2 separate regions of the Homo sapiens genome follow, and region 1 is linked to region 2. Evidence: fine-mapped expression QTL. A gene starts in region 2. The other region holds a variant in brackets. All regions are shown on one strand. Distances are from middle to middle. Region 1 has its middle 37 kb from the start of LDLRAP1. Region 2 holds the start of TMEM50A (transmembrane protein 50A).

What was found. PIP is the estimated chance that this variant, and not a neighbour inherited with it, causes the effect. A credible set is the group of variants that fine-mapping cannot tell apart.
Region 1: its variant is the best candidate, but not a certain one, in a credible set for the expression of TMEM50A in whole blood (INTERVAL, PIP 0.82).

The regions. Positions count from the first base shown.
Region 1 is chr1:25,504,441-25,508,831 of GRCh38, forward strand. No RefSeq gene overlaps it. Among named protein-coding and RNA genes, the nearest start is that of LDLRAP1, 37 kb to the right of the region's middle. RefSeq lists an enhancer at 2,061-2,970. The variant G/C (reference allele first, on the strand shown) is at 2,577.
Region 2 is chr1:25,336,704-25,341,094 of GRCh38, forward strand. It overlaps TMEM50A (transmembrane protein 50A), which reads left to right and starts at 1,631. Exons shown (of 7, transcript NM_014313.4): 1 at 1,631-1,753; 2 at 3,771-3,876. The coding sequence starts at 3,784. It also overlaps a transcript of RSRP1 not described here and the pseudogene LOC124904723. RefSeq lists silencers at 175-469, 1,461-1,580.

The DNA of each region.
Region 1 (4,391 bases), 170 kb after region 2:
TGGGAGGTCAAGGCTGCAGTGAGCTGAGACCACACCACTGCATTCCAGACTGGGTGACAAAGTGAGACTCTGTCTCAAAAAAAAAAAAAAAAAAAAAAAAGGAAAAAAGCAATGGAACAAATGGTTCCCACTGGAGGCTTCCAGGGCTTCCATCACACTGAAGTGGGGACTTCCTTTCAGAACATCGTAGAATCTTTGTGTATTCAGAACCCAAAAGGCAGTTAAGATGATAGGTGATTTTCATTTTCTTCTTTATACTTTACTGTATATTCCAAATTATCTAAAATTCATATAACAAAAAAATGATTTTTAAAACACATTTTAAATGTGACTAAAAGCCAAAACAACAACTCCAAAATAATAAAAACCAACCCAAAGAGGAACTTGGAGTGAGCAGCGTGGGGTGAGGAGAAAGCCCCCAGCTGGCACTTGGCCCCTCAGTTGGTCCTGCTGAGGTATCTGCCTAGGCGTAGGGGTCTAGTGGGATCACAGTTGGCCGAGTGCTCAAGAAAGGGATTTAGGACCGAGGAATAGATGGTTACCTGTGAGGACTCGGCCTGTCATCTGTGTAAGTCATGTGTTGCAGAAGCCCTGAGATGCCAGAACTTGAGATTTTTCAACCAAAAACAAAAGGAATCTGGATAATGTGAAATCTCCCAATTTTTAAATGTTAGCTCAAATGTATTATCTGCAGATCAAACAAAATATGTCTGGAAGCTGCTAAATAGGAACCTAAGGCTGTAAAGTGCCTACGTTTTCCTGTTTCTGGCTTTGCTCCCAGTCCCTTGGCCTCTCCACGCACTGCAGAGTTCAGGAGAAGTGGGGCAGTGGGTCTCAACCCTGGCTGCTCATTAGAGTCACCTGGGGAGCTCTTAAAAATGCCCATGGCCAGGGCCCACCCTGAGAGCGCCTGATTTAACTGGGCTGGGGAGGAACCCGGGCTTTGTTTGTTTGAATTCCCCAGAGGTTTCTAATATGCAGTCAGGGTTGAGAAACTGGGAACTAGAGGGGAGTAAGAGGAAGCCTCCATCCTGCTGGGGCCTGGGACCTCAGAGGATGCATGCAGGTGTCTGGGGGCTGGGGCTGGGGCTAGGACTTCAAATGTTTTTAGCTGGCCAAGTGGAGATATGAGCAAAGTTGGTCTCTGCTGTCTTCCCACCTCCCCTGTGGAGACCCTCGTGTCTCTTCTTCTGGCCCCTGGGCTTCCTTCCAGGCCCTTGTCCTGGATTCCCCTTGTCAACCACATTTATCGCACTGTCTGCAAATATAAATTGTTAGCCCTCTCGTTTCCAAAAAGGAATTCTGCTAGCATCACCCCAATTTGTGGTTACTATGTGTCAGCTTATGAGGGTTTTTTAAATTATTATTATTGCAAGCCACAGAAGCTGACTGCGGCCAGTATAAGCCCAAAGAGGAACTGAATGAAAAGAGACGGGGCATGCACATATGGGGCTGTCGAGAGGGCTGAAGAGGCCATATGGGAAAGACAGGAGCCAGCCAGCATGGGCAGTTTGGAGGCAGGAGCTGCTCAGCAGGGCCCGTGGCTGAGTGAGTCCATGTCCCAGCTTCTCAAGTCAAAGTCGGGGGATGGTGGTAGATGTGTGCTACTGCTCCCAATTATCCACTCCATCCCTGCAGCGAGGTTGATCCATCCCACTCTACTCAGCGTCCAAGTTGGCCATATAACTTGCATTGGTCAATGGAATGTGAGTGGGCATCACGTGTGCCAGGTGTGGGCAGCCTGAAATGCACCTGAGTGCTTTACATCAGCCTCTTGCTCCTCTCTGCGGGAGAACAGCATCTCCCAGAGAGGGGCCACAGCTGGGTGAGAGGTGAGCCATGTCAAAGCCCGCCCTCAGACGTGGGAGCAAAAAATATGTGTTACTGGTCTTAAGTCACTGAGATTCGGGGGCTGTTTGTTACCAGAGCAAAAACTGATATAGACAAAGAGTCCAAACTTGAGTCATATGTCCTCCCCTTGGCTGAATCTTGGGCTGGAGAACACTAGCTGAGGGAAGGAGATTCAGGGCCCTTTTGCGGTCTGAATGTTTGTGTACCCTTAAAATCCTTATGTTGAAATCCTCACCTGCAAGGCCTTTTGGGGGGTGATTAGGTCATGAGGGTGGCTCTATGAAAGAGGCCCAGGAGGAAAAAGGAAAGATGGCCGAATAGGAACAGCTCCGGTCTACAGCTCCCAGCGTGAGCGACGCAGAAGACGGGTGATTTCTGCATTTCCATCTGAGGTACCGGGTTCATCTCACTAGGGAGTGCCAGGCAGTGGGCGCGGGTCAGTGGGTGCGTGCACCGTGCGCAAGCCGAAGCAGGGCGAGGCATTGCCTCACTTGGGAAGCGCAAGGGGTCAGGGAGTTCCCTTTCTGAGTCAAAGAAAGGGCTGACGGACACACCTGGAAAATCGGGTCACTCCCACCTGAATATTGCGCTTTTCGGACCGGCTTAAAAAACTGCGCACCACGAGATTATATCCCGCACCTGGCTCGGAGGGTCCTACGCCCACGGAGTCTCGCTGATTGCTAGCACAGCAGTCTGAGATCAAACTGCAAGGCGGCAGCGAGGCT[G/C]GGGGAGGGGCGCCCACCATTGCCCAGGCTCACTTAGGTAAACAAAGCAGCCGGGAAGCTCGAACTGGGTGGAGCTCACCACAGCTCAAGGAGGCCTGCCTGCCTCTGTAGGCTCCACCTCTGGGGGCAGGGCACAAACAAAAAGACAGCAGTAACCTCTGCAGACTTACATGTCCCTGTCTGACAGCTTTGAAGAGAGCAGTGGTTCTCCCAGCACGCAGCGGGAGATCTGAGAACGGGCAGACTGCCTCTTCAAGTGGGTCCCTGACCCCTGATCCCCGAGCAGCCTAACTGGGAGGCAACCCCCAGCAGGGGCACACTGACACCTCACACGGCAGGGTATTCCAACAGACCTGCAGCTAAGGGTCCTGTCTGTTAGAAGGAAAACTAACAAACAGAAAGGACATCCACACCAAAAACCCATCTGTACATCACCATCATCAAAGACCAAAAGTAGATAAAACCACAAAGATGGGGAAAAAGAGAACAGAAAAACTGGAAACTCTAAAACGCAGAGCGCCTCTCCTCCTCCAAAGGAACGCAGTTCCTCACCAGCAACGGAACAAAGCTGGATGGAGAATGACTTTGACGAGCTGAGAGAAGAAGGCTTCAGACGATCAAATTACTCTGAGCTACGGGAGGACATTCAAACCAAAGGCAAAGAAGTTGAAAACTTTGAAAAAAATTTAGATGAATGTATAACTAGAATAACCAATACAGAGAAGTGCTTAAAGGAGCTGATGGAGCTGAAAACCAAGGCTCGAGAACTACGTGAAGAATGCACAAGCCTCAGGAGCCGATGCAATCAACTGGAAGAAAGGGTATCAGCAACGGAAGATGAAATAAATGAAATGAAGCGAGAAGGGAAGTTTAGAGAAAAAAGAATAAAAAGAAATGAGCAAAGCCTCCAAGAAATATGGGACTATGTGAAAAGACCAAATCTACGTCTGATTGGTGTACCTGAAAGTGATGGGGAGAATGGAACCAAGTTGGAAAACACTCTGCAGGATATTATCCAGGAGAACTTCCCCAATCTAGCAAGGCAGGCCAACGTTCAGATTCAGGAAATACAGAGAACGCCACAGAGATACTCCTCGAGAAGAGCAACTCCAAGACACATAATTGTCAGATTCACCAAATTGAAATGAAGGAAAAAATGTTAAGGGCAGCCAGAGAGAAAGGTCGGGTTACCCTCAAAGGGAAGCCCATCAGACTAACAGCGGATCTCTCGGCAGAAACACTACAAGCCAGAAGAGAGTGGGGGCCAATATTCAACATTCTTAAAGAAAAGAATTTTCAACCCAGAATTTCATATCCAGCCAAACTAGGCTTCATAAGTGAAGGAGAAATAAAATACTTTACAGACAAGCAAATGCTGTGAGATTTTGTCACCACCAGGCCTGCCCTAAAAGAGCTCCTGAAGGAAGCGCTAAACATGGAAAGGAACAACCAGTACCAGCCGTTGCAAAATCATGCCAAAATATAAAGACCATCGAGACTAGGAAGAAACTGCATCAACTAATGAGCAAAATCACCAGCTAACATCATAATGACAGGATCAAATTCACACATAACAATATTAACTTTAAATGTAAATGGACTAAATGCTCCAATTAAAAGACACAGACTGGCAAATTGGATAAAGAGTCAAGACCCATCAGTGTGCTGTATTCAGGAAACCCATCTCACGTGCAGAGACACACATAGGCTCAAAATAAAGGGATGGAGGAAGATCTACCAAGCAAATGGAAAACAAAAAAAGGCAGGGGTTGCAATCCTAGTCTCTGATAAAACAGACTTTAAACCAACAAAGAT
Region 2 (4,391 bases):
CTGGTAAACTAATGTTAAGTCACTAACGGGAATTTAAAAGGTTTCATTAAGAACTGCCTGCACTAGATTCCTCCACCCTGAGACATTAAACAATCACGATAAACCTCCTGAGTGGTAAGAACGTGTCCATTTAAAAACAGGCTATAGATTGTCATGCAGTTTTATCTACTAATCGGCTAATGCACCGCCAAAAACAAACAAAAAAACCCAAAGGGATGAAAGTTTCATCCATCAAAGGAAACAACAGTCACCTTGGTTCCCATCCCACTCATATACTGCCGCCGTACATGTCAATCAGATGAACCTGTGCGTATCTCTTAACGACAATTGACCCACCTTTTTAACTGAAGTGAAGGGGGGTTCTGCTCCGCGACCACTTCCTGGATCTCTCCCTTCACCCTCTGTGTTCTTTCGGGTGCACCATCGGGTCAAAGCCGCAGCAACGCCGTCTCTGTGTGATCGCATGTGCCCTTCTGCACACGACCTTCCCCCGAGAGTGACCAGCTACCGGACAGGCACCAAGGAGGGCTACCGAGCACCTCCCGGACCGGCGGCTGCAGGATCGCGAGCGCCTCCGCTAGGGAGACCGCACGTTGCGCCTGTGCTTCCTGCGGTGGCGCCTTCTGCAAGGAGACCTCGACCCTGCTCCCTCTCCGGGGCTGGATCTGACTCCTTGACGGTGATTCCAGACGCGAGACCCAAACTGACGGCTTCTAGAAGAGGGGCGAGCCCGGCCGCAAGTCTTTCACGTAGCTAAGTCATCGTTGCTTCCGGCTTCTTACCGTTCTCCCCTTTGTAAACGGTTACCTCCCGAAAACCCAGGCTCTCCTCCAACAGTGGTTCTCAAGCGAGGCGATCTTCCCCGGGAGGGGATATTTGGCAAAGTCTGGGGGCATTTTTGGTTCACTGGGGCTGCTACTTGCATCCACTGGGTAGAGGCGGGGGATGCAGCTACACAACCTGCGAAGCACGGGACAGCACCCTCCCCAACCCAGACAGAATTAGCCGGCCCAAAACCTCAGTAGTGCCCAGGCTGAGAAACCCTGCCTTAAACAAACAACAAAGAAAGGCCAAGTCCCATAAGTGGGTCACCGCGCCGAGACTGGGGTCCACGGGACACCCCAGCCACGCCAAGCCGGGAAGTCCCCGCCTCCTGGAGCTGAACCCGCCCCTCTCCCAGAGGTGGAGCTGCGGGGGGCGGGAACAGGCACGGAGAAAATAAACAAGACTAAAAAGTCCTGAGTAGCGCTGTGTGGCCGCAAACCTGAACCCACCTTTTGCACCACGCGGGACCCGGCACTCTTCCTGCCACCCACCCCTGAGAGGGCTGCGCGGCCGACCCCAGTACTAGAAAACACTCGTCACCTCACTCAAGACGGGTACGAAGGCCAACGGACGCCTTCCTTTAGAACGCTCAGCACACAGAGCAACTTCTCACGCCTACTCTCAAATGGCGTACTCCAAACTAGCACTCCCGACGTCCAGCTGTGAACCCAGAGCGGCGGAAAGCCCCTGAACCCAGCGCCCGGGCATGCGCAGACGCGTTGTTGTGGTGGGCGTGGCTCCCTCCGGACCCGGCGCCCCGCCCTCCGCCCCGTGTCCGCATGCGCGACTGAGCCGGGTGGATGGTACTGCTGCATCCGGGTGTCTGGAGGCTGTGGCCGTTTTGTTTTCTTGGCTAAAATCGGGGGAGTGAGGCGGGCCGGCGCGGCGCGACACCGGGCTCCGGAACCACTGCACGACGGGGCTGGACGTAAGTGTCGGGCGGGGAGTGGGGGTAAGAGAGTAGCGGCCGCAGGCTGGAGAGGCCTCGGAGCCGGGGCCGTCTGACGGGCTGGTGCCCACAGCACAGGCTCGTTGCCGCCACCCTCCCGGAAGCCGCAGACCCGGGCTGAGCCGCCGCGGACCTCTCCTCTCCTGGGTCCGGCGGCGCCAGGAGAAGGCGACGGCGTCCAGACCCCGCCAAGACGGAGAGGGGACCGCGCCCTCCCCCGGGACACCCCAGGATCCCTGGAAAATCCCCCGATCCCCCACTTCACAGCTGGACAAGCCGAAGCCCCGAGAAAGGAGCGTGACCCGGCCAGCTCCCTCAGCGAGGGGTGCCCCGGCTAAAGGTGGCTCCCCCATCTTCCAGCGGCGTCCCTCGAGACCTAAAAGTCCCAGAGTTTGGAGGGCGGGGTCTGGCTTGAGCGTACCAGTCGTCGTGCAAAGAAAAATGGATTCGGGGTGGGGCCATTGGGATGAACCGAAAATAACACTTATTGAATTGCAGTTCTTCCCGGGGAAGAATCAAATGAGTGAATTTCCTAAATTGAACTTGTCCCAAAGGCATCTTAGCATTGGCTGTAATCATATATTTTAATATTTAATTTTTAAAAGAGAAGTTAAAAATGGGAGACGTTGCTCTATTGTAGGGTGTCATATTTTTGGACAACCATAATTGCTGGCTACAAAGTATCTTAAGGAAGTCAAGTTCGCTGTAGGAGTTTGGGTGTTGTTATTCGCAAGTTATATGTATTTCAGGCTTTTTCATACTCTGAAATAGAGATAACATGGCTGTATCTCAGGTCTCTACTGCTCGGCTTACAGGAATGTTTTATATAATTTGTAAAGACAGCTTGGGTCGGCTATATTTAAATAGCAGTTGGATTTTTGTAATCTGAATTACTATTAACCACGATTCTGTGCTTGCTTTTGGCTGGAAACACCCGTTAGGATCAGAGATAGGGATATTAAAGTGGATGTTCTTTATATAGAAATGACACCAAAAGGCAGGCTTGCAGAAAGAAAAATAATGAATGAAGTGAAAGGAAATGATGTGGGTAGAGGTAAGAACTGCAGTGCAGTGTTTAATTTCTTGATTTAGGTGTGAAGAAACACACGTTCTGTGATAAAATATGTAAATTAGAGAAATATTTTTCATTTGAATCTGTAATTCCACTCAGAGCCAAAGTTTATCACTTGTCTCTCTACTAATGTTAGTGCTCCTGGACTGTAAATATCAAATTCATTTAATAAGTTTGGAATCAAAATGATACAAAAGAGCTCCTGTGGATTAGTAATCATATACTTGGTATTAAAAGTACCACCTAAACTAATTTAATACCTACTTAGAAATAATAGGATGTGACAGATTTTCAGGAGGAGGTCAACCAGTAGTTAAAATTTTTTCAATATTTGGAGACCCACCTTTGTTAATACTGCTTAAATATATCCAAACCATTTATTTCTATTTATTTATTATTATTTTTGAGACAGAGTCTTGCTCTGTCGCCCAGGCTGGAGTGCAGTGGCACGATCTCGGCTCACTGCAACTTTCGACTCCCAGGTTCAAGCGATTCTCCTGCCTCAGCCTCCCAAGTAGCTGCGATTACAGACATGCGCCACCACCCCCGGCTAATTTTTGTATTTTTAGTAGAGATGGGGTTTGCCATGTTGGCCAGGCTGGTCTCAAACTCCTGACCTCAGGTGACCCACCCACCTCAGCCTCCCAAATTGGTAGGATTACGGGCATGAACCACCACGCCCGGCCCCCAAACCATTTTTTACATTAAAAAAGATACTAAATGAATCCAGATATTACTTTCCAAAGTTATAATGTGGAAATTCATCAAAAACTAAATCAAATATTCTGAAGAAGTATGTGGAACCAAAATAAAGCATTTGTAATTTCACTTTTATCTAATTATTCCTGAGCTATTAATTATTTTTCGGGCTTGAAGCAAGTAAATGGAAGTACTTATTTAATTGTTTGTTTGTTTGTTTTTAAGTGACCTGAAAAAAATGTCTGGATTTCTAGAGGGCTTGAGATGCTCAGAATGCATTGACTGGGGGGAAAAGCGCAATACTATTGCTTCCATTGCTGCTGGTGTACTAGTAAGTGTCATTGATTATTTGGGCCTTATTTTTTGGTGCGTTTGTGTTTATGGGTTTTGAATTCTGCAGGATGTTTTAAAATATGTACTATTTATTTTATCTTTGACCACTTTGACCATGTTGATATTTTGTTGTTTGTGGAGAGTTATTAGTTCCACTTTAAGAGTTTATGGTTTAAAATTTGATTAACAAGTGGTTGGGTTGTTTTAACTGCATGGTAAAAATGGCATAATAAAACATTTGTTCATTATATGGATTATATCTCCTTTTAATGAGTATATTAAGGTACAAGGAAGTGTTTAAGACGCAGTCAGGTCAAAACCAGTCAATAGATGTGATTGCATTTCTCCATAATCCAGTTAACTTTCTTCTCAGTCTCAGGGAAAAAAAAGTGCTCGCTTTGGCAACACATACACTAAGATTGGAATAATACAGAGAAGATTAGCATGGCCCCTTAAAATTTTTTTTTAAAAAGCAAAAACAAAAAGGAAACTCATTAAAATACATTGTGTGGA